3 separate regions of the Homo sapiens genome follow, and regions 2 and 3 are each linked to region 1. The links come from fine-mapping of genetic effects on plasma protein levels. Region 1 holds a variant in brackets. A gene starts in each other region. All regions are shown on their reverse strands. Region 1 overlaps TNFRSF13B (TNF receptor superfamily member 13B). Region 2 holds the start of CD27 (CD27 molecule). Region 3 holds the start of QPCT (glutaminyl-peptide cyclotransferase).

What was found. A credible set is the group of variants that fine-mapping cannot tell apart. PIP is the chance, under the fine-mapping model, that this variant and not a neighbour inherited with it causes the effect. Protein levels are from antibody-based Olink assays in UK Biobank. Linkage for the fine-mapping came from a reference panel and not from the study's own genotypes, which makes the PIPs less certain.
Region 2: it holds the start of CD27, and the variant in region 1 is the best candidate, but not a certain one, in a credible set for the plasma level of the CD27 protein (UK Biobank, PIP 0.78).
Region 3: QPCT starts here. The variant in region 1 is the best candidate, but not a certain one, in a credible set for the plasma level of the QPCT protein (UK Biobank, PIP 0.78).

The regions. Positions count from the first base shown.
Region 1 is chr17:16,936,627-16,944,803 of GRCh38, reverse strand. TNFRSF13B (TNF receptor superfamily member 13B) reads left to right here. Exons shown (of 5, transcript NM_012452.3): 4 at 4,293-4,478; 5 at 5,007-5,723. The coding sequence ends at 5,257. Among named protein-coding and RNA genes, the nearest start is that of TNFRSF13B, 31 kb to the left of the region's middle. RefSeq lists enhancers at 1-299, 361-861, 862-1,362, 5,486-6,326, 7,124-7,624 and silencers at 5,591-5,640, 5,651-5,700. The variant C/T (reference allele first, on the strand shown) is at 5,127.
Region 2 is chr12:6,439,812-6,447,981 of GRCh38, reverse strand. CD27 (CD27 molecule) reads right to left here and starts at 3,027. Exons shown (of 6, transcript NM_001242.5): 1 at 2,751-3,027; 2 at 2,427-2,558. The coding sequence starts at 2,886. CD27-AS1 (CD27 antisense RNA 1) reads left to right here. Exons shown (of 6, transcript NR_015382.2): 4 at 895-1,021; 5 at 4,265-4,436. RefSeq lists enhancers at 1,747-1,866, 2,576-2,755, 2,786-2,845, 2,390-2,891, 3,796-3,845 and 1 more and silencers at 4,926-5,005, 5,106-5,245.
Region 3 is chr2:37,337,586-37,345,751 of GRCh38, reverse strand. QPCT (glutaminyl-peptide cyclotransferase) reads right to left here and starts at 1,122. Exons shown (of 7, transcript NM_012413.4): 1 at 901-1,122. The coding sequence starts at 1,020. It overlaps LOC124907754 (a long non-coding RNA gene), which reads left to right and starts at 697. Exons shown (of 2, transcript XR_007086284.1): 1 at 697-2,025; 2 at 5,025-6,336. RefSeq lists a silencer at 692-751.

The DNA of each region.
Region 1 (8,177 bases):
TCCCACCTCACCCTGACTCCAGGTTTCTCTTGCATCCCATTCAGAACTGCCACTCCTTAGTGGGACCTGGAACTGTGGCAGGCTTGCTGTGCATGGGGAGTGGGGAGAATGAGGCAGTTCCTGTCCCAGACCCATGGAGCTCACTGTCTCGTGGAAGGCCAGGCAGTGGACAAGCCACGCAGATGACAAATTCCTCTCAGTGCACGGGAGCCACGTAACCCAGCTGCAGGTGACACGGGGACAAGGAAGGCTTCCCCGAGGAGGAGTCTTTAGGGCAGGCTGGGGTGCGGGTGTGGAGTGTGGAGCCAGACCCCTAGTTATGTCCCTCACAAGCTGTGTGACCTGGAGCAAGCTACCGACCCTCTCTGAGCCTTAGTTCTGTGAGGCTGGAGTTGTTCGCCTTCATAGAGCTGCTGTGAGGGTGATTTGGGAGAATATGTTTTTGGGGGAGCATGTGCTCTGTGCGCTGGAACTGCTCATTCAAAAAGCAACTATGTTGAAGCCACACGGTGGAGACAGGGTTCCAGACAGAGGCAACAGCATGTACAGGTGCTGCTAGGAGCAGAGAACTGTGCCGTTGGGAGGCTGTGAGGGGCTCTGTGCTGGAGGCTGGGATAAATCCCTTCCTCTCGGGCTCCCAGCCTGCAGGAGTGTGGTGGCCACTCCACAGAAGCAGGAGGGACCCCACCCCAGATCTGCTTTGAAGGTAGAGACTGACCGCTCCACATGCTCACCAAGAGAGCACAGAAAGCCCTGCTGCTCACACATGGCGCTTGGTGGGGAGAGGAGGGCAGGCTCCCAAGCTGGACTGAAAATGGCTTGAGATGTTGAGCAGGAGAGGAGACTGGCGTGGGGTTCTACTGCGACGACTCCAGGCCGACGCGAGGAGCTTCCTGCCCGGGCTCCGGGGCAGGTGCAGGGAGTGTGTGTGTCTCCCTGAGGGGAACAGGTGGCCCAGGCAGCCTGCCCTACTGGGTGGGGCTGCTCATCTGTCCGGCAGAAGACGAGGAAAAGCACCAAGGGCAGGACCCTGTCCCCCAACATGGGGGTTGCAGAGGACTGAGTTGGGAAGAGCAAGGATTCAGGGGCAGCTGGAGATGGCACTAGGAGGGACCAGATGCCAGATGACAGAGGGCCCTATGTGCCAGGCTGGGAGGCTGATGTCCTGCTGGGGGCAGGGGCAGCCATGGGAGAAGGGGGTCAGAGCAGGGCTGTGGGGAGAGCTCTCTGTTGCCCCTGGATGGTGGCGATAGCAGCAGGGGCCCTGTGAGAGGCTACTTCTGGCAATAATAGGAACCAGAGACCTGGGAGGGGGACAGAAGGACAGTGCATTGGCATGAGATTAGAACTGGAGGGAGAGGTGCTGGCATGTGATCAGCCATGGAACTGCTCAGCCTCTGTGTCCTGCAGACACTGGGGGTGCCCGTGACCCCTTCTGGGAATAAGGTCAGAACTAGGCCTCCTGGGCTTGTGGCTGCATCACTCCCATCTCTGCCTCTGTCTTCACATGGCTTCTCTCTCGTGCCTGTGTCTCTTCCCTTCTCTTCTTGTATAAGGACACTTGTCACTGGATCTGGACACTTGGCACCAGATCCTCATCTTCATGTTGTGACCCTGCGTGGCTCTGTGGGGAGGCAGGGTTCAGCTAGGCGGGTCTTCTGCTGCTCTTGCTTGGGGTCTGTCATGCAGATGGTGCTGGGGATAGAGCCATTGGAGGCTTGACTCTGATGCTGGGATATTCAGGCCTTGCTTCCCCTCCAGCTGATCTCAGGGCTTGCCCCTCTCCACTGGGACTCTCCAGTTGGACTTCTCGAGTGGTAGCTCAGGCCCAAGGGAGCAAACACCGAGGCTGTCAGGCCTTCTTGAGGCAGAGGCCTGGAGTGGCACAACCTCGCCCCCATGGCACTCTCCTGGATAGGATGAGGCCCAGTCCAGCCCAGAAGGTCCACAGGGCATGATGTCAGGTGACTGTGCTCTGGGTGTGGTCTCTGAACACTTGCATGGTCTCTGAAAGCTGGGTTTCAGAATCTTATGATGAAATGTTTGAAATATGCACAAATGTTTAGTTTTCCTCCTTGAATCAACGCCGTTCATTTCCGCTTAGTAACAACCTGTAGCCTGGCATTCTGTCTGTGCTCTGAGGGCTGGTAGCGTCTCCCCTGCTCATGCCTCCAGGGCAGTGTTTGCATTTGATTTGAGAGGTGAATAGGAGCAGGTAAGCCTTGGATATGTGGCACCAAGTTTGCAGGTCCTGGGGTCTTTGCTTTCCTCCGTTAGGCCTCTCTGAGCTCTGGGCACTGGACAGAAGGACAGCCACTGACTGGCGGAGTGACACGAACTCACCCCAAGTTCCCATCTCCCCCCTGTAAATGTCAGAGTGACACTGATGACCCCTAAGAGTCCTGGCAGCTCTGTCACTTTATGAGATTCCTGAATCTAAAAGCGTGTGTGAGGAAGACGGGCAGTGCCAGCCCTGGGGCCGCTGTGTGGCCCGCGGGCTTGGAGCACCGGCCTGGGAATTGGTGAGACCGGCTCCCGGGTGCAGGTCTAAGACCGAGAACAATATCTTAGACACTCAGTTTTGTCATCTGTAAAATGGAGTGTGAACGGCAGATGCTGTGCAACGCAGTCCAGCAGGTCCTCAAAAAACAAAACAGAGCTATTATGTGACCCAGCCATTCTTCTCCTAGGTATACACCCAAGAAAATGGAAAACATCCATCCACACAAACATGTGGATGTGAATGTTCACAGCAACGTCATTCACAATAGCCAGAAAGTGGAAGCAACCCAAATGCCCATTCCCTGTTGAATGCGTAAACAGATGTGGTCTGTCCATTCCGCCTAAAGAGAAACGAAGGTCTAATACACAGCACGGCAGGACATGGTGGACCTTGAAAACTCAAAGCCAAGTGCAAGGAGCCAGGCATAAAAGACCACGTGTTGTATGATTTCATTAATATGAAATGTCTGGAATAGGCAAATCCACAGAGACAGAAAAGAGATGAACAGTTGCCAGGGGCTGGGAAGAGGGAATGGGGAGTGACTGCTGATGAGACAGGGTTTCTGTTTGGTGATAAAAATTGTCTCCAATTAGACAGTTGCCATTGCTGCACAACCTTGTGATGTGCTAAAAGCCACTGGTTGTACACTTTAATACAGCAAATTTGATGGTATACAAATTCTCAGTATTTTTAATGGGGGTAGTTGTCTGCCATCAGAGCGGGAAGATGAAGGGGGTGCTGTAGGGGAAGTGCCCGGCACGAAGTGGGACTCGCTCTTCTTGACGTGTCATCTTAAATCTGGCTCATCTGTCTTTCCACCCAGCGCCTAGAGGATGCCCAGCTCCAGGGACAAGGAAGAGCTTTTGGGATAAGGAGAACTTCCAAGGGGAGGGCTTTCACCTGGGCTGAGTCTGTCTCTGGCATCCAAACCTGGAGGCACAAGTCCTGAGTCATAGGGTGGCCAGGTGCCCTGATGCCCAAAGCCCTCCTGGTTGGCACCTGCTGTCCTGGTCTCAGTGTAACGTCGCCTGTCCTACTCTCAAACACAGTGGGCCCTCTGTGTCGTGCGACCCATGTCTGTGGATTCAACCAACAGCAGCTGGAAAATACTCAGAAAAGATAGGGGATAGTTGCATCTGTACTGAACCTCTGCAGCCATTTTTTCTCATTGTTATCCCTAAACAATACAGTATAACACCCTTCTACATGGCATCTATATTGTATTTGGTATTATAAGTAATCTAGAGATGACTCTAATTGTATAGGAGGATGTGCATAGGTTATATGCAAATGCCAGGCCGTCTTGTATCAGGCACTTGGACATCCGCGGATTTTGGTATCTGTAGGGGATCCTGGAACCAGTCCCCCATGGATACCAAGGGACGACTGTAAACGCTCACTCAGGAAGCTTTCTCCTTGGAGGAAGGGCCCAGTTCAGGATGCACAGAGACATGCTCCCTGGAGCATCGTCTGTTCGTCTGTCGATTCACCCATCAGCCCATCTCCAGCGCTGTCCCAATTACAGCCCTAGCAAGTGGAGACAACAAGAAGGCCTAGCTCACGTTTCCAGCTTTGAGGCCTTAGAAAGTTGCTGCCAGGATGGGGGAGTGGATCAACTTCCTCCAGGATCCAGAGAGCATCCCAGCAGCCTCAGGGTCAGAAAAGGAGCCCAGCCTCTCCAGGAGCCAGACAGGCTCACAGCAGGGGGATGGGGGGATGTGGATTGCTTGAGCCTAATGACGGGAAGAGAAGAAGGCACTGCAGAGAGGGGTCTCATGCTGTCTTGCAGCTCTCCCGGGGCTGAAGCTGAGTGCAGATCAGGTGGCCCTGGTCTACAGCACGCTGGGGCTCTGCCTGTGTGCCGTCCTCTGCTGCTTCCTGGTGGCGGTGGCCTGCTTCCTCAAGAAGAGGGGGGATCCCTGCTCCTGCCAGCCCCGCTCAAGGCCCCGTCAAAGTCCGGCCAAGTCTTCCCAGGGTGAGTGCATGAAACTGGGGTCCTCGCCCTTCTCGCTGCTTGGGTGACAAGCCTCGGGCCATCCCTCGGTCCTGTCACTGCCCCTGCTTCTAGGTGGAGAGGCCCAGGGCTCATCCCTGTTACTTGCTATACCTTGATAAAATCAGGTTAAGACATCCTGGCAGACAGATAACTGGGAGAGTGGCACCCGGGAAGGGTGGGTGTGGGGTGCCGGTCTTCAGGTTTGCCTGGGCCCAGGATTCTCCAGATGCAGAGCCTTCAGGGCTAAGCCCAGGAGGAGGTGTCCCCTTGGGGGGCGTGGCAGGCTCGGTGCTGGACAGAAGTGAGAGCCAAGAATTGCCTGCCCACCCCTGCCCCGGCACAGGTTCTGGTCAGCAACTGGCGGACACTGACACCTGTCTGGGGGCGTTCTACGCTGGTGATTGCCCTTAGCTCCTGGGTCGGGGGAGAGTGCGGCTGCCCACACCGTCACCCCTACCCTAGTGCAGGGCCAGGCCTGGCCCACGCCCTCCACTCTCGCCTCTGCAGATCACGCGATGGAAGCCGGCAGCCCTGTGAGCACATCCCCCGAGCCAGTGGAGACCTGCAGCTTCTGCTTCCCTGAGTGCAGGGCGCCCACGCAGGAGAGCGCAGTCACGCCTGGGACCC[C/T]CGACCCCACTTGTGCTGGAAGGTGGGGGTGCCACACCAGGACCACAGTCCTGCAGCCTTGCCCACACATCCCAGACAGTGGCCTTGGCATTGTGTGTGTGCCTGCCCAGGAGGGGGGCCCAGGTGCATAAATGGGGGTCAGGGAGGGAAAGGAGGAGGGAGAGAGATGGAGAGGAGGGGAGAGAGAAAGAGAGGTGGGGAGAGGGGAGAGAGATATGAGGAGAGAGAGACAGAGGAGGCAGAGAGGGAGAGAAACAGAGGAGACAGAGAGGGAGAGAGAGACAGAGGGAGAGAGAGACAGAGGGGAAGAGAGGCAGAGAGGGAAAGAGGCAGAGAAGGAAAGAGACAGGCAGAGAAGGAGAGAGGCAGAGAGGGAGAGAGGCAGAGAGGGAGAGAGGCAGAGAGACAGAGAGGGAGAGAGGGACAGAGAGAGATAGAGCAGGAGGTCGGGGCACTCTGAGTCCCAGTTCCCAGTGCAGCTGTAGGTCGTCATCACCTAACCACACGTGCAATAAAGTCCTCGTGCCTGCTGCTCACAGCCCCCGAGAGCCCCTCCTCCTGGAGAATAAAACCTTTGGCAGCTGCCCTTCCTCACTGCATTGTGGTTGGGTCTTTGATGAACTGAGACATCTTGTCTATCACTTTCCTGGGCATCAGGCTCCACTGAACGCTGCCCCCTTGGTTTGGGAGGCCCTGTGGTGCCCCCATCTCACCAGGCTCTCGAGGAAGCTTGTGACCTTGGGTTGAGCCCTAAGCAGCCGGGTACCCACTGGGGCTCTGCTTCTCTCTTTCACTAAGAGAGAGAAAGAGACCAAAGAAAGGTCTGCAGGGAGGGTGCCTGTGCAAACACCCAGGGAACCAGGGGCTTGAGCCATCTTCATTTCCTTACAGACACACATTCCCTTCCATGCCTCCTTAGTAAGGGCATGACGCACAGTGTGTGTGTGTGTGTGTGTGTGTGTGTGTGCAGGTGTGTGCATGCATATGTGTGTGCATGTATGCGTGTGCATGTACGTATATGTGTGTGCGTGTGGATGTCTGTGCATGTATGTATGTATATGTGTGTGTGTTGTGGGGATGTGCAGTGGACAGGAAGGGGAGGGCAGCTGTAGCTGAAAGCTGCGAGTCTCTCTGGAAAAAACATCAAGATTCCCTGGACCACAGCAAGAGAATGTTTTCATTTGAGTCCACTTTTTGTTAGCATTTAAAGCTATATCTTGAGTAGCATGTAAACCTTAAGTAAACTATTCTTAGAAGCATTTTCACAGTAAGATAAATCCATAATAATGTACATTGAAATTATGCACCCTGCACCTCCTAAAATTATCTTGCAAACCTGCACCCACCAAAGGATCCCGTAGCGCACTTTGGGAGGTGTAGACAGGAAGCCTGGGGCTCCGTCGCTCATTCCATCTTTTCACCAGCTGTGGGCTACCACGCTGCATTGGTTTGCTTGGGCTTCCTTAAAGTACCACAGACTGGGCAGCTTCAGCAACAGAATCTCACTGTCTCACAGTCCTGCAGGCTGTAGGTCCAAGATCAAGGTGTCGGCAGGGAAGGTCCCTTTTCAGGGCGGTGCGGGAAGGCTCTGTTCCAGGCCTCTCTCCTGGCAGGTAGGTGGCCTTCCCGGTGTCTCTTCACCTCGTCTTCCCTCTGTGTGTCTCTGTCCACATTTCCTTTTCTTATAATAACGACACCAGTAGTTAGATTGGGGGCCCCCCTACTGACCTCATTTTTCATTTTAACTTATTTCTATAAGATGATATCTGTAAATAAGATCACATTCTCAAGCACTGGGGCTTAGGACATCAACACAGGAATTTCGGGGGACAAATTCAACCCATCACACAGGCCGTCCTCGAGGCCACCTCTGCGTCATCTTTGTCTACAGGCAAGTTGGCATCTAAAAAGTGTCTGCCCAAGACATGCGTCTGGCCCATGGTACAGCCAGTCCACACGGCCAATGGTGAGATCCGGGTGGCATTGTTTCCTCACCGCCATGCCTCACGCAAGCAGCTGCCTTCTTACAACAAGGTGGACACAAATCCCAGAACTGGCGCAGACGCTTGCTGGCTGTGGGTGAAGTAGCCCCACGTCAGCGTCCTGCAAATATGCGGCTTAGAATGTTACGGCTTGTGTGAAAGATATGCAGATTTCTATTCCTTCCGATCCATGGTTTCAAGTTCTGCTCGTCTGAACCCAAGGGGCTCTGTAGGTGCCTCTGGAACAGCCGGGGTTTTAGGGGTGTTGAAAACACAAGGTACCCAGGCTCAACCCCAGCTTCAATCACACAAATAATCTTGTGGTGGTGTTTCTTTGGTCAGTTTTTAAAATTGATCTTTTGTACTCTTTTTTTTTTTTAGAAAGGGATCCTTTGGTAGAAAGAAAATCTGAAACTCTAAATACTGTCCATTTTATCTATGTATTGTTGGTCCTTTCCCCAAAATATATCCTGATTCCAGCCACTTGTCATGATAGTTTTAATCTGAGCTCTCATCGTTTTTCACCTGGATTACTGTACCAGCCTCCCCACTGGCCTCCCCGCTGCCACCTGGCCCCTCCCCAGGGCTCAGCAAGATTTTTCTGCAAAGGACCTGGTAGTAAGCATCTTGGGCTTCGTGGACCCTGTGGTCTTTGTTGCACCTACTCAGCAGTTACTCAGCTTCGCCACTGCAGCCCTAAGTAGCCACAGACAAGAAGTGAACACAGGGGAGGAACTGTGGCTCCAATAAACCTTTATTCACCATGACAGGAGGGGACTGCATCTGGATTGTGGGCCATAGTTTGCCAACCCCTGCCTGACTTCATGGCAACACTGAAATTCGTATTTATGCTTCTTAAAAACATGTCTAAGCCAAGTGCAGTGGCTCATCCCTGTAATCCCAACACTTCCAGCTGAGCCTGGAGGATTGCTTGGGGACAGGAGGTCCAGATCAGCCTGGGTAACACAGCAGGATCCCATTTCTACAACAAACCATTTCAAAAGCAGCCAGGCATGGGGGCCCACACATGTAGTCCCAGCTACTCAGGAGACTGAGGTGGGAGGATTGC
Region 2 (8,170 bases), not on the chromosome of region 1:
GCAGGAGGGGAGAGCACTGGTGGTAGAGAGGAGTGATGACAAGGGTCTCCGCCAAAAGGGAAATGGAGGGGTTAAAGAAGCTGCTGGGGAGGGTTAAAAACAATGTGTTCTCACTCGTAGGTGGGAATTGAACAATGAGAACACTTGGACACAGGAAGGGGAACATCACACACTGGGGCCTGTCGTGGGGTGTGGGGAGGGAGGAGGGATAGCATTAGGAGATATACCTAATGTAAATGATGAGTTAATGGGTGCAGCACACCAACATGGCACATGTATACCTATGTAACAAACCTGCACATTGTGTACATGTACCCTAGAACTTAAAGTATAATTAAAAAACAAAACAAAACAAAACAAAAACAATGAGGTGCTATTGTTTTAGTGGTGAGTATCCGGAGACCTGGGAGTTCTATTTACCAGGTATAACCTGGGCTCAAAATTCCAGGCTGACTTCAGGCATGTCCTCATCTCATAGATGCCAGCACTAAGGCCCAGAGAGGGCCGAGCTCATTCAGCCCACCCATCTTCTCACCCCTGACTGCATTTCCCGGGGGTCCTTCTGCAGCCAGGTGCTGCTGTGGTACTTTGGGATCTATTGGCTGAGCTCCCAGAGAAGGGTCATGGATTGGGCTAGTTTGGAACAAGTGAAGGGACTGAAGATGGGCTCAGTATGGGGCGAAGACCTTCAGGAAGGGTCTGCAGAGTGAGTAGGGGGGTTTTGACTAGGAAAAGTTCCAACCCTGCCGGGGCCGCTGTCAAGAGAAAAGCATCTATTACAGTTACATTTTTAAGTTAAGTAGACTGAAGAATATTTCTTGTGTATTAAAGACGTTCCTTTTTGGTTGATTTGCAATGGAAAAGCTTTTGTTTTCTTTTTTTTTTTGGAAACAGGGTCTCACTCTGCTCACTCTGTCTCCCAAGCTGGAGTGCAGTGGTACAGTCACGGCTCACTGCAGCCTCCACTTCCTGGACTCAAGTGATCTTCTCACTTCAGCCTTCTGAGTAGCTGGGACTACAGGTTCGTGCCACCACGCCTGGCTAACTTTTTGTATTTTTAGTAGAGACAGGGTTTTGCCATGTTGCCCAGGGTGTTCTTAAACTCCTGGGCTCAAGGGATCCGCCTGCCTTGGCCTCCTAAAGTGCTGGGATTACAAGTGTGAGCCACTGCTCTGGCTTTTTGTGTGTGTGTGTGTGTGTGTGTGAAAAAGGGTTTTGCTCTGTTACCCAGGCTGGAGTGCAGTGATGTGAGCAGCCTGGACCTCTTGGGGACCTCTTGGGCTCAAGTGATCTTCCCATCTCAGCCTCCCAAGTAGCTGGGACTGCAGGTGCACTACCATGACCAGCCAATTTTTTTAGAGACAAGGTCTCACTATGTTGCCCAGCTGGTCTCAAGCTCCTGGGCTCAAGTCTCTACAAAATATGCAAATACCCTTCTGCCTTGGCCTCCCAAGTGCTGGGATTATAGGCATGAGCCACCACATCTGGTGTTGGTTTTTGTTTTTGTTTTTACGGGACCAGGCACTACAGCTCACACCTGTAATCCTGGCACTTTCAGAGGCTGAGACTAGAAGATTGCTTGAGCCCAGGAGTTCAAGGCTGTGGGGAGCTATGATTGCACCACTGCACTCCAGCCTGGGTGACAGAGCTAGACCTTGTCTCTAAACTAAACAAAACAAAACCCAGTACCAAGAGACCCAGTGACACCAAACACGTTTTGCAAGTAGGTAGTTTAATAGTTACAGTTACCTGGTTCTAAAAAGTGTCTTGCTAGAGAACATTTGTTCAAAGGGGCCACTTTAAAGCCTGCTATTCTAGTGTATACTGGCCGTAGTTTCTGAAATTGTAGCGAAGATGGAGAAATAATAACAGCATTCATAAGCACAACTGCAGATATTATACTTCTTAGTTTAAAAAAAACCTTTTTTTTTGGAACTATAAAATAAAAACACAGGCTACATACATACTCATTTTCTCAAATTGGCTTTTGTGCAAAAAAAGGTTGTTACCTATTGGGTTGCTTTGTTATTTCCTTAGAAAGATGTATTCCAAATTCCCAATGGCCAACCTGCACATGTGCACTCTGGGAACACAGTCAGTTTATTGGTTGGGGGTTGCTTGCCCGAAATCTGGGGTCATAGAGCCACTTCTCTCATTTTATTGTCTTGATCCTATCCATAGACCCGTTCTCACCAATCCCTCAAATTCTATTTATCCCTTTCCTGGAATACTAGATGTCTGCCCACGTTAATTCATGCCCCACCTAGGGTGCCGCATTTCCCAGCATTGGCTCCACTTGCTGTGAGCCTTGAAGAAGGCCAAAGCTTTGGCCCCGTCATCCTCCTTGCACCCCCAAACCCGTCACCAGCCTTGCTCCCCCAGATGCTTGTCCATCGTCCCCACCTACACACCCTTGCCCACCTCACCAGAGTTACAGTGCCGACAGCTCTCACAGTGGGGCCGGGTGTGGTGGTCAGGAGAGAAGGAGACCCCCGGTATGCAAGGATCACACTGAGCAGCCTTTCTATGCTGGTCACAGTCCTTCACGAGGAATGTTCCTGGGAGGAGAGGGTAAGGGATCAAGGCCTGAGAAGGGCTGGTTCTCTGCCCTCTTCAAGGTGGTGCCTCCCCACAGCTGCAGGATTTCCCTCCTTGCTTGAGCTCAGTCTCACCCTGCGCCTATTTACTGTATTAACCCCAGTCCTCTCTCTTTCGCCACTCACCTGGCCCTTACCAAGGCCCCCTCTTACCTGGCTCACACATCTGGCAGCACAGCTTTCCCTGAGCCCAGTAGTGCCTCTCTGGGCAGCTCTTGGGGGCTGGAGTAGCTGAGAGCCCCACCAGGGTCCCCAGAACGCACAGCCACCAGGGATGTGGCCGTGCCATGGTCCCTGCCCAGGCGGCTCCTTTCTGTGCCCAGTTGCTGATGCTGGCCTCTGGAGTTAGCACCTCCAAGCTGGGCGCTGCTGTCTCTTCTTTGCACCCCCTGGGCAGTGGCTGCTTCAGGTGGCAAGCCAACCTTTGAAGGCAGAATCTCTATTGTGGCTGTTTTTTTTTTCTCTCTCATAGCAGCAACCTCCACCCCCTTCCCCTTCCGTGTGCTGGGGAGAGTATTAAAGAGCAAACTCTGTGAGACCTGCTGCTCTTCAAACATGCTTCCTCCAACACATGAGCCTTCCTTAGTTTCCGCCTCTCCTGCTCATGAAGCACGTAGCCCACTGACTCCTGCTTCTTTGACAAAAAGGTGATGGACACACAGTTGCTCACCCCTCCTATTCATGCACTTGTGCACAAAGGTGCCCACGTTACCCCCCCCCACCCACCCCCCCGTCCACAGTTTACAGACGAATTCGCAGGACTCCTGTCTCCCATACCTGCATCCCTCCTTTCACAGACAACAGTTGAAAGAAGGAAGGAGAACCAGAATTGAGCACAGGTCCACAAGCTCTTATCTGAAACTTTGGGGGTCAGATAAGTTTTGGAATTCAGAATTTTTCAGGTTTATACAGAAACCAGCACCACAAAACACCCTTGGGGAGTTGGGGTAGTCTCATAATCAAACGCAACATTTCTGCAGCAAAACTATTGAATATTTACACCAACTGGGAGGAAGCTTAAATAGCCTTGTCTCAATTGAGGTCTGGTTTGATGGCCAAACGAGTTTGCTACAGAATGCTCAGAATTGCAAGCAAGGGGTGTAGAGCTGCCTCTCTTCTGTCACACTCTGACCGATCACCTATGCTCTCCTTTAATCCTCATGTCAGTCTCTGATGTGGGTGCCACCTACTGCCCACATGGCCTTCCCTCTCAGACCCTTGCTCACTCCTCACTTTTGTGCCATCTTTATCCTCCCCTTTCCCACCTCTGGCTGTGTCAGTCACTGGTGTCCTGGATCGCCTGGAGCATCTTCTCTCCTAGCCTTGGGCACTTGGGATTAAAGGTAGCTTCCTACGGGGGTCATCTCTTTTTTATTTTCCCAGTTCTCCCAGCAAGACTGATTTCGGGATATTGGAAACAGCTAGACTTTTCCCTCTTTGAGTCATGGGGACACACACGGGTCAACAGCCTCCTCCACTCTTTCCTCAGCAACCGATATGTGGAGTGGCTTATTTCCCCAGGAAGTTTTTAATTTAGGGGCTTTGCCGTTGTTTCCACACTGTTCATAAATGTCACACTGCTGTGGTCACACCTGTCAGATCTGTTCTCTATCTCACTCTGTAGTTTCCTTTCTCCTCATTTTCTCCATTCTCTTGTCTTTTCCCAGCCCCCTCTGCAGCTCTTCATGGGGGTCCACTCAAGTCAGAAGCCACATTTGGGTGTGATTCAGAGAGCTGTTTATGCAAAACCAGCTTTGTCACCATCAGGCAAGGCACCTGAATTCCCACCGCAGAGAGTGTTGTGGCCGTGAGGACTTTTCTGTCACCAGCCATTTCCAGGTTGTGGTAAATGTGTTCACTGCAGGCATGGGGCAGTGGGGTGGCTAGCTGACTGCAGGCCCTGGGAGGGTGGATGAGACCCTCAGAAGAATCATGAGGAACTGGGGACCTTTAGGAAGAAACTTGTCGAACAGGGACTTGCAGTTCGCTGAGCCTAGCAACCTTGAACCGACTGGGAACTGCTCACTAGCCTAACGCTGCTGTCCTCTGGGCCAAAGCCCATCTCCTCTTTTCTACATATCACTTCTCCAGGGGGTCAGAGCAGGAGCAGGGTCTGCCTGGCTTTCCTGGAGGGCCTCGGCCAAGAGGAGGAAGGCCAGGTTTCTGGACGTTTTTCTTTCCTAGGCAAATAGAATGAGCTCATCTCCAGCACTCTTTGCATCCACTTCTGGTGAGCCTTCCCCATCCTAGGCTGGCTCCCTGGACGGGACCTTCCTTTTTTTTTTTTTTCCTCCCTCCATTTCACTCTGTCACCCAGGCTAGAGTGCAATGATGCAATCTCAGCTCACTGCAACCTCTGTCTCCCAGGCTCAAGCCATTCTCACGCCTCAGCCTCCTGAGTAACTGGGATGACAGGTGCGTGCCACCACGCTCAGCTAATTTTTGTATTTTTAGTAGAGATGGAGTTTTGCCACGTTGGTCAGGCTGGCCTCAAGTTGATCCGCCCACCTTGGCTGGGATTACAGGGGAGAGCCACCGCGCCCAGCTTATTTTTTGTATTTTTAGTAGAGATGGGGTTTTGTCATGTTGGCCAGGCTGGACCAGAACACCTAGCCTCAGGTGATCTGCCTGCCTCGGCCTCCCAAAGTGCTGGGATTACAGGCACGAGCCACCATGCCTGGCTGGGCCCTTCCTTTTGTCTAGAGGCCCTGGGATGCAGCCCGCTGACATCTTCCTTGAAATCTCACACAACCACTTTCTCTTTTGGGGTCAGCCTCTCCCCCATGCCTGGCTGGGGCATAAAAACATATGGTATTTTCTCAACAGCTCCCTGCTTTTCTTTCCTTTCCAGAAACAGGCCCACAGCAGCCCTTCTTGAGAACTCTGAGGACTCTCATGACTTTTTTTGGTTCTTTTTTTTTTTTTTTTTTTTGAGAAAGGGTCTCTCACTGTTGCCCAGGCTGGAGTGCAGTGGCATGATCTCAGCTCACTGCAACCTTTGCCTCCCAGGTTCAAGCGATTCTTATACATCAGCCTCCCAAGTAGCTGGGATTATAGGCACCGGCCACCATACCCGGCTAATTTTTTGTATTTTTAGTAGAGACGGGGTTTCACTATGTTGGCCAGGCTGGTCTCAAACTCCTGGCCTCAAGTGATCTGCCCTCCTCGGCCTCCCAAAGTGTTGGGATTACAAGCGTGAGCCACTGTGCCTGGCCTCTCATGACTTTTGAGAGGGCCTGACCAACCCTCCACCTGGCCCAGTGACTGTAGCCTAGATGTCAGCCAGGGGCACCCTGCTCCTTAAAATCTAGATAAGATGCTCTTTGCTTCCCACTCAGGGCAAGTCCTGGGCAGGCTGTCCACCTGCATGAGTTCCAGTAGGTTGGGTGTTCTTGTGGCTGCCTCTGGCTCTGATTTCTCTTTCAGCTAAAGTCTTGTTCTTGCCTCCGTGTCTCCTGTCTGTTCCCTTACCTGTACCCTGCCTCAGGCCCAAATTGTTGGACACAAGACTTGCTTAAAGTTTCCTCTAAACCAGCTCTAAACAGAAGGCTGTTAGGTGTGGCAGACTTTGTCTTTTTTCTCCAATTTTTATGAATCAATAACCTGTTAAAGCGCTCAGCAGGACCAGTCTCTGCAAGACCTTTCCTTAGGAGGAAGTTCTGTTATGGGACAAAGATGTCCGCAATCACTGTTCCTGACTTAGGCTTCCTGAGTCTCATCACCTGAAGCTCTGAGTTTGTCTGGCCCTCTTTGTCCCCTGCTCCCCATTGCTTCCTCCCCGACTCCCACTTTCTTCGATGACCACCACCAGCACTGCTGCCCCCACCACCTTAAAGCCTCCTTCCCAGCAAGGCTTTGAGAGGCCACCTGGTCAGGACAGTGAGTTAAGCTCATTAATGAGGTTCTGGGTCCTCGCAGCTCTGTAATTTTCATTTCTGCACCTCCCCAGTCTGGGTGACACAGGAGACTGACCAACTATGGGTATTTCCAGCCTCTGCCCACTCCTCAGAAGCCCAGCACAGCTCCCAGTGTCTCCTAGCACGTAAGGCACTGGCTAAACATTGGATGGTCCAGCTCAGCTTTGTGCTGTAGCGGCTCTGTCCACAATTATAAAATGGAAACGTCAGAGGGCTCAAGGCCCCTTAGACCTCCTCATTCATTTGACAAGCGTTTTTTGCACATTCATTTTGTGTTAGGAACCAGCCAAGTAATGGGGCACAAAGATGAAAAACAAACAGACAAATATGTGGTTTCTGCCCTGACGGAGTTGACACACCAGTGTGAGAGTCAGACATCGATCATATAATCTCAAAGACAAATGTAAAATTGGCCAGGTGAGGCGGCTCACACCTGGAATCCCAGTCACGTTGGGAGGCCGAGGCGGAAGGATTGCTTGAGCCTAGGAGTTTAAGACCAGCCTGGGCAACAGAGTGACACCCCGTCTCTACACATAATAAAAATAAATTAACTGGGTGTGGTGGCACGTGCCTGTGGTCCCAGCCACTCGGAAGGCTGAGGTGGGAGGATCACTTGAGCCCAGGGGGTCGAGGTTGCAGTGAGCCATGATCATGCCAGTGCACTCAAGCCTGGGAGATAGAGCAAGACCTCATCTCACAAAACCCAAAAAACAAAACAAAATTAAAATTAGTTAGTAATGGTCATTATTGCTATGAAGGAGAGAGTTGGGGTGCAATATAGGTGTCTATACCCCTAATAGGGGGATTTAAGGGGTAGGGAGTGCCTCATCCAGGAAGCAAAGTTTAACAGAGATATGTGGGATCTGGCAGCTCTCCACCTACATGAGAATTATTACTTCCCTTGGTTTCTGTGACACGATTCTATTTTCCTTGCTTTGACCACTTGTTTTTTAAGTGCTATTTTTTATTTTTTTATATACAGATTATATACAATAGGGATAATCTGTTCCTTGAAAGCCTGGTAGAACTTGATTTGCTTGTGTGTAGCTGTTTCACTGTTATTATTATTATTTTTTTTAGGCTGTCTTGCTCTGTTGCCCAGGCTGGAGTGCAGTGGCATGATCTTGGCTCACTGCAACCTCCTCCTCCTGAGGTCAAGTGATTCTCCTGCCTCAGCCTCCTTAGTAGCTGGGATTACAGGTGTGCGCCACCACACCTGGCTAATTTTTGTATTGTTAGTAGAGACGTGGTTTCACCATGTTGGTCAGGCTTGTCTCGAACTCTTGAGCTCAAGTGATCCACCTACCTTGGCCTCTCAAAGTGCTGGGATTACAGATGTGAGCCACTGCACCCGGCATACTTTGCCATTCTTTTTCTAATGTATTGGATGCTTAATTAATTTAGAAATTTCTTATTTTCTAATATATGCATTTAAGGCTATAAACTTCCCTTGAAGATCTACTTTAGCTACATCTCATCAGCTTTGCTATATTGTTTTTTTCATTATTGTTGATTTGCTTTTCCCGTTATTATTTATTTTTACCTATATTTCATTTATAAATGCATTACAAATTTTCCAGATCTGTGGGGCTTAACTTTTTGTTGTTTATTATTTTAATTTTAAATTTATTGTGGCCCGAGCACTCTGTCTGTGTA
Region 3 (8,166 bases), not on the chromosome of region 1:
CCATTCTCCTGCCTCAGCCTCCCGAGTAGCTGGGATTACAGGTGCGTGCCACCACGCCCGGCTGATTTTTTGTATTTTTTAGTAGAGACAGGGTTTCACCATGTTAGCCCTGATGGTCTCGATCTCCTGACCTCGTGATCCACCCGCCTCGGCCTCCCAAAGTGCTGGGATTACAGGCGTGAGCCACCCCGCCCGGCCGAACCCATACACTTCTTACAGAGGGAACTTGCAAATCACTTTTATCCTAAGTTCCTTATATGCGATTTCTACCTACAACTAGATCCATTTTCTCTGAAAATAGCAGGTACCCTCTTTTAAGTGGAGGAAAAAGGCTTTTGAAGTAAGCAGGTCTCCAGTAAAGGTCCTTCCTGCCGAGTTGCTCCTTTTAAAAATCTAAAACAAACAACACACATCCGTCCTGAGACTGTAGGGACACTTCAGCGCCCCAGCAGCATCCTTGGATGAAGCAGCGGGGGGGCTGTGGGCACACCCCCAGGCGCACCCCGCACCCTAGCGGCCCCGGAGCGCCGGCCCCGTTGCCCTCCAGGGTCCCGAGTGGGGGGTGGCGCCGCGATGCGCCCTCGCCTCCCGGCTCAGCAGCCGCCGGCGAGACACATTTCCTGTGCCTATCAGCACCCCCATCAGACCGCAGCCCAGGAGAGGCCAGTGACATCACCCAGCCCCCCTGGCGTCTCCAGAACAGCCCCGGACTGGCCGAGGCACCCCGGCGAGTATGCAGAGCCCCGACTCCTCCGGGCGCCGGGTGGGGCGCCGGTGCCTGGGCTGGGGACCGTGGCCCTGCCCCGCCTCCCGCTCTGCCTAGGTAGGGCTGACCCGGCCAGGGGTCCTCGCATCGGACCAGAGCCGCTCAAGTACAACTACGCAGAAACAGCCCCTCACCTTCTCCTCTGGCCAGGCTGAGGCACTCGGACTGACCCCCCTGGATGCCCAGGGCAGGGCGGCCACCAGCAGCAGCAGGTGGAGGGTGCCCACGACGCGCCGGTGTCTTCCGCCTGCCATCTCTCCGAGTCTGTCTGGGAGCGGGTTCCCCGGGCCGCTGGCGGTCACGAGCCCGGGAACGCGCGTCCTTCGCCTTCCCTCTTCTCCACCCTTGGGTCGACTGCGCCCGCCTTCCCATCGCCCCCGGGTAGCCTCCCGCCGCGTCGCGCAGGCTGCAGCCCTCCTACCCCGGACCTTCGCAAACCCCGGGGCTGGGCGGCCCTGGGTGACAGACACAAGCTTCTGAACCCAAGCTAACAAAGGCGGCCACTTCCTTCTCTTGGAGAAGATGAAAGGAAGGAAGCAAGAGACATGGAAGAGCCTTTTTATGATCTCCAATGCCAAAACAGGGAACAGAAAAGGGAGGAAGGGTTCACCAGACCCTGGGGAGTTATGAAGTGTTTCCCACAGCTCCTAAAGAAGGGGTGGACAGGGAATCGACGTCTGCTGAACACGGCACCAGGCACCGTCCTAGGTGCTTGTCCAACCTTCCCGGATTTAATCCACTAATCCCATTTTACAGACGGGGAGACTGAGACACCCCCCCACCCCCCATAGAAAGCCTGGACTGGAACCCACAAGCAAAAGTATGACAGTGGATCTTTGCCTTTTCTCTTTTTTCTCACAAATAGTTGCCTTGCCTCACATCATACTCTCAAATTGAAAAGGATGGTCAAAGTAATTATCTGAAATAATGAGATCTACAATATTCACAGCGGCTCTGAAGGAGTCATCTTCTCCAAGGCATGGCCCCAAAAGGAAAAGCCAAACACAATTCTATTTACTTTGTAACATCAAAGGTCATTGTTATCCAGATAATCCTAGGGCAGGAAAACATTTCAGTTTTGTCTGTAGGTTTCTGGTCCAAGTTGTCAGGACAGTGACTTTCACCAGCCTCTTTTGCTTCCACAGTGAGGATCAGGGCTTGGCCTGCTCTGAGTCATCTCCCAGTAACATCTAGTTCCCAGAAAAATCAGAACAAGGATACTGAAGCAGAACCATTTCACAGAGAGCAAAGATTTGAAGGTAAGGAAGCTGCCAGAAGGCCCACCCACTCACTCTGTCTTCCCAGCCTTGGCTATGAGTTTTTAAAGAGAGGGCTTGCCTGGAAATACACTGTTCTGCCCTCCTCTGGAGCTGTAGGAGAAGACAGGATGTAAATAACTCCTTTCCTGGTGTACAGATTTGCTAACCCTATTCATGTCTGAGAGTTTTGAGTGACAATTTAAATCTCCAGGCTTAAATAAAATTAAATACACCTTTATTAAACCCACAGACAGTTCTGATCATCGGACCCCCTTCAGAACTTTCTACTGGCTCCAGTTTCAGAACTAAACCACTGTCACATTCCCCAATACAGCTCCTCTCTTGCTGCCTGGGTCAACCTTGAAATAGTGCATTTCCTGAGTGGCTGGGTAATAAAGAGCCTATTTGCTTTTTTTTACCCTATTACCTTTATGTCTTTTCACAATATGGTTCCTATAAGAAAGAGAACGTGGAAATAGCAAACCTAAATGAAACAAAATGTGAGAGGTACTATCATGCTAAGTATGAGCAATTCAAAACAAGAAATATAGAAATAAGCTAAAATGTCAGCACATAACGTAATGATGATTTTGTTTCCTAAGTTTCTCCAATTTTGGTTATATTTAAGTCAATAAGATGTTCTTACAGTTTGGTATCTACAGGAAGCAGACTCTGAGACAAGAGTTTAACATGCAGGATGTGTATTAGGGAGTGCCCTTGGGACAAACCCCTGTGGGAGGAAGAAGGGGAACAGGAGAGAACAGAGGGAGAAGTTAGCAGCAAAGCGGGCCCAACAACCTCACCCAACTCCATGGGAGTCCTGAAGCTGAAAAAGACGGTCAAAGTTGTCCCATACTGGGCCAAAATGTCTGGGGCCTTATCTCTGCACCTCCATGGAGTGATTTCCTGCAAGCGGCTTTCCAGCCAAAAGAGCTTGACTGCTAGAGGCTGTGGGCCAGCCGGCCTCCAACAGCTGGAGCAGGGTCCTTCCCTGGGGGCAGATCTGGGCAGCGCATCTCCTGTATCCACCACAAACGTATTGTATCTGGTACAAATCTAAAACATTCCACATAGCTAGTGAGACTGATTTCAATACATTGGTTTTTTTTTTACATGTAAGCTTTTCTGCCAACTTTCCAAGAATCTACAAATCCAACACCACTATGTATGTATCACTTCATTCCTTATGCATATCTTTTCTAGTGTCTTACACACTAAATACCCTTTTCCTTTCCTTCGCTCATTCTTTTCTCTCTTCCTTCATTTGGGAAACGTTTAGAAATACCTTATATCTGCTATTTTTGCCCTACTTCAACTTTTCCTTTCTTCAAACTCTTCCCATGGAAGATAACTAATGACTTTTCCATTTTAATTAAAGTTTCAGACCCTGTTTTTCATCATGGAAAAAATGTGTTGTATATACAGTGATAACACTGTTCTCAAGTGGAGAAATTTTTACCTCCATTATAGTATAGATTCCATACTGTGATGTGAAGGAAATGAAGGACCCAATTGCCAAAACAGATCTTCTCCATGAAGCTGCCATGGCAGGATGTTCCTACACCCAGTCCCACCTTTAAAGTGGCGCCATTAGATCAAAGTAGTAATGACCAGAAGGTTCTATTAAAACAATAGTTTTCAAAAGTGTGGTCCATGGATACTGGGGATTCCCCAAGACCCTCTTGGCTGTCTCCAAAGTCAAATCAACTTTTATAATAATACCAAAACAAGATTCATTTTTTCTACTGTATAGACTTTGCACTGATGTTGCAAAAGCAATGATGGGTAAAAATGCTGGCACCTTAGCAACTGTCAATACAGGACACAAAACTGTACTATTGAGGAGGAAAATCTATACTTGTAGTCATTGTGTTTTTCTTTCTTTCTTTCTTTTTGGAAGGAGTTTCACTCTTATTTCCCAGGCTAGAGTGCCATGGTGCCATCTCGGCTCACTACAACCTCTGCCTCCCAGGTTCAAGCGATTCTCCTATCTCAGCCTCCTGAGGAGATGGGATTACAGGCATGCACCACCATACCCTGCTAATTTTTGTATTTTTAGTAGAGACAGGGTTTCACCATGTTGGTCAGACTGGTCTCGAACTCCTGACCTCAGGTGATCTACCTGCCTCGGCCTCCCAAAGTGCTGGGATTGCAGACGTAAGCCACCATACCCAGCCATCTTAGTATTTTTCACTGCCACGCATAAAGAAAAAAAAAAAGAAGAGGACGATAAAAGAAAAGAAAAAGAGCCAGTTTCACTTAAGAATGTCATTGATGAAGTAATAAAATTGTTGTTTTACTGCCTTCTGAAGCTGTCTCTCCATGAAGCTAGATTTTAAATCTAGCAGGACAGAGTACAGGAGGAGAGAGAGCTCCTCACGTCTGCGTTTTCATCTCATGGAGACCACCAGCTCTGTGTGGACTCCTCCTACCTGCACTGCATCCTGGAAACTCTCAAAGCAGTAAGCTGGAGAAAACATCAGGCTCATCTCATTTCATTTTCCCTTTTCTCACCACTTTCCTGTGATACCTCTTTTCCAATATTTAAGCATCATTTTAAAAATTTTTATACACTTAGAGAGTACAGGAGCAGTTTTGGTACATGGATATACTGCATAGTGGACAAGTCTGGGCTTTTAGTGTAAGCATCACCTGAAAACATAGTATACATTTACCCATCAGGTAATTTCTCATCCCTCCTACCCTCCCACCCTTCCAAGTCTCCAATGTCTATTATTCAGCTCTTCATGTCATTGTGTACACATTATTTAGCTTCCACTTATAAGTGAGAACATGTGCTAGTTGAGCTGTTTCACTAAAGATAATGGCCTCCAGTTCCATCCATGTTGTTACAAAAGACAAAATTTTGTTATTTTTAATTGCTGGTAGTATTCCAGGGTGTGTGTGTGTGTGTGCGTGTGTGTGTGTGTGTGTGTGTGTGTGTGTGTGACGTTTTCTTTATCCAATCCATTGTGAATGTCATTTTTAATATATTTTAGGTGGGATGACAAATCCAGTTCCATCTTAACTGGAAGCACAAATTGAGAGTATGCAGCTCTTTATACTCACATGGGAAAATAAGACGTAGAAATCAAACACTTCTGCTGCACACCAAAGGGCAATTGTCTCAAAGAAAAGCATTTGTACCGTTGTTTCAGAAGTATAGTGGGCCGCAGTGGCTCACATCTGTAATCCCAACATTTTGGGAGGACAAAGCAGGTGGATCACTTGAGGTTAGGAGTTCAAGACCAGCCTGGCCAACAGGATAAAACCCCCATCTCTACTAAAAATACAAAAATTAGCTGGGAATGGTGGCAGGTGCCTGTAGTCACAGCTACTCCAGAGACTGAGGAAGGAGAATCACTTGAACCTGGGAAACAGAGTTTGCAGTGAGCAGAGATCACACCACTGCACTCCAGCCTGTGTGACAGAGAGAGACAGTCTCAAAAAAAGAAAAAGAGAGAGAGAGAGAAGCATAGTGAACTTGCTACTTTTTTCATGAAATTCCAATTTAATTGAAAGAACAATGACTGATAAATTATGATTATTCAGACTTGGATATTTGGCAGACATTTGAAGATGAATAAAGTGCGCCTATCCCTTGAAGGAAAATAACTGACACTGTTTGTTGCCAGTGATAAAACTGGATCTTTGCAGTAAAAATTGGAATTTTGGATAACTTGTATCTGCTACCATAAGCTTGATAGTTTCCTGATATGCAACAACTTTTATGACAAAATTGGTGATTTTAACAAATGTGATTATTTATTATATATAATGAAATGCTCAACATTTGGAATATCTGCATAACTCAGTGAAGCAATATTTTCCAAATGTTCAATTCATCATGTTACAAAGTCACAAAGAAAAGTTCCACTCAAAGTATAAGAGACACCCAGTGGATTTTAATGTAATGGAATAAAAACATGTATTTAGAAGCAGATTTTAAGTTGTACCTTTTATGACACTATCATTTGTTATGTTTTGATTTAATAATGAAGGAGATTATCCACAGTTATCTGAAGAGGCTATTAAAATACTCTTCCTTTTTCCTACTACATGTCCGTGTGGGGTCAAATTTTCTTCATGTACTTCAGCCAAAATAATATATCACAACAGGTGGAATGCATAAGCAAATATGGGAATCCAGTTGTCATCTAAAAAGTCAGAAATTAAAGAGATTTTTTTAAATGCCAATCTTCTCACTAAACTCTTTTTACTTTGGAAAATGTATTTTTTCATAAAACATGTGTCTTTAGATGCAATGACTTTATTCTTTTAAAATAAATCCATAATTAAGTATTTGTAAAATGCCTGTTCTAATTTTCAATACAATAAATATTGATAGACATGGTCCACATAAATGAAAGCTATTTGTGGTCCTCAATTACTGTTACTAATGCAAGGAGTTCTGAGACCAAAACATTAGAGAATCACTATGTTAAAACCATTCTACTTGAGAGAGACAGATGATAATACATTAAACCAATGCTTACAACTGTAGCTACACATGGAAATTATCTAGAAAGCCTTTTTTAGAAAATGGTGATGTCTGACTTCCACCCCCAGAGATTCTGATATGATTAGCCTGGTGTGTGGTCTGGGCGTCAGATCGCTTAAAAGCTCCCCAGGTGATTCTAACGTGCAGCCACGGCTGAGAATCATTGCATGAAGTCACACACTTTGAGAAATACATCAGCAAAAATCATATAATCAGATTAACTATAACATTAATAGTCATGTTGCATTGTAGTTATTTCATAAGGCCCTGAGGATAATAGCAAAAAAGATTGGGAAAGTGGCCCAGCCTTAGACAAATTATGAAGTAGGCAGCTTAAATTCAAACCCCCCAACTTTCTGGCCCCATGCAAGTCTAGTACTGAAGCACCCTGCCTTTTGTTCCTTTAATAGTCACAGAATGTAAAGAGTCCTACATTATATTCTTGTTTGAATCTGTCCGCCACCTCTTTCGATAGCAGAGTGAAAAATTAAAATATTTGCCTCTGCAGTCCAGTGTCAGATTTTTAGTGTTCCTTAGAAATCTCAGGAATCCAGATTTCCTGTAAATATTCCCAACTTCTTTCACCAGATCAGAGGTCGGGTGAAGGTGGCAATAAAAGCTAGGAGAAAAAAAACGTTCCTCTTCTTTGGTTTTCTGGCCTTCTCACTTCCCAGTCCTATTAAATAACATGCGCTGTCCTCTCGAAGAAGGACAGAGGAACAGTCCCCATAAACCCTGATTCCTTTCACAAACACTAATTATGCCCCTCAAACAAAATTCCTTTTATCCATTTAATAATTTATCATACTTTTGATCAGTTTTTCTCTGAGAGCTCTGAAAACCAAAAGTGTTCAAGGTCCAAAGAAATGAATCTCTAGTAAGAAATTTCAGTGCACTCAAGGAGATGAGAAGTAGAATCAAAGATGAAGAGAGTGGAGGTCACCTGGTGACCGTCAAGCCAGCCATCCAGAGGAAAAAACTCCTCGTCTGAGGAATTTAGAAGTAATTAGACTTCCCTGTTATCTAAAGCGGGCATCTGGTTCCAGGCTTCTTTCTCAAAAATTTATAAGTAACTAGAATTTCCATACATCTGCAGAATGTATGTATGTTGAAACTCATTGTGCAACACTTGCTGACATCAAGGCACCAAAATGCCTACAAATTTAACCATTTATCATGACCTATGTGGCTAATAGGGTCCAAATTACCATTAAACTCCCGCTTTAAGGTTCATAAACACGCCTAAGGGAAAATCCACCACAATTCCTCCCTTGCTGAGGTGCCCTGCTGCATTCTTTTGCAGCTTTCTTTCTATCTAGTAAAACTTTCCTTTTCAAACCTATACTGTTGTCAGTAAATTCTTCTCACCAATCTGCAAGTCAACCACCTTCCAATGCCGGAGCTCTGGCACCTAGCCCAGCAAAAGACAAAGACTCACACACAAAATTCATTCTTTACAGCTCACAGAATAGACAGCACTGATCTACACAGTACCTAAACTGCCTATGATGTGAAGTTACAAACAACTGATCGTTACAGGAAGCATCCATGCATATAATGTTTAAGTCTGTATATTTATAGAGGCATACATGTTGACATTTTATTCAAAAAATTTCATCTATGTTTAATTTTTCCATCTT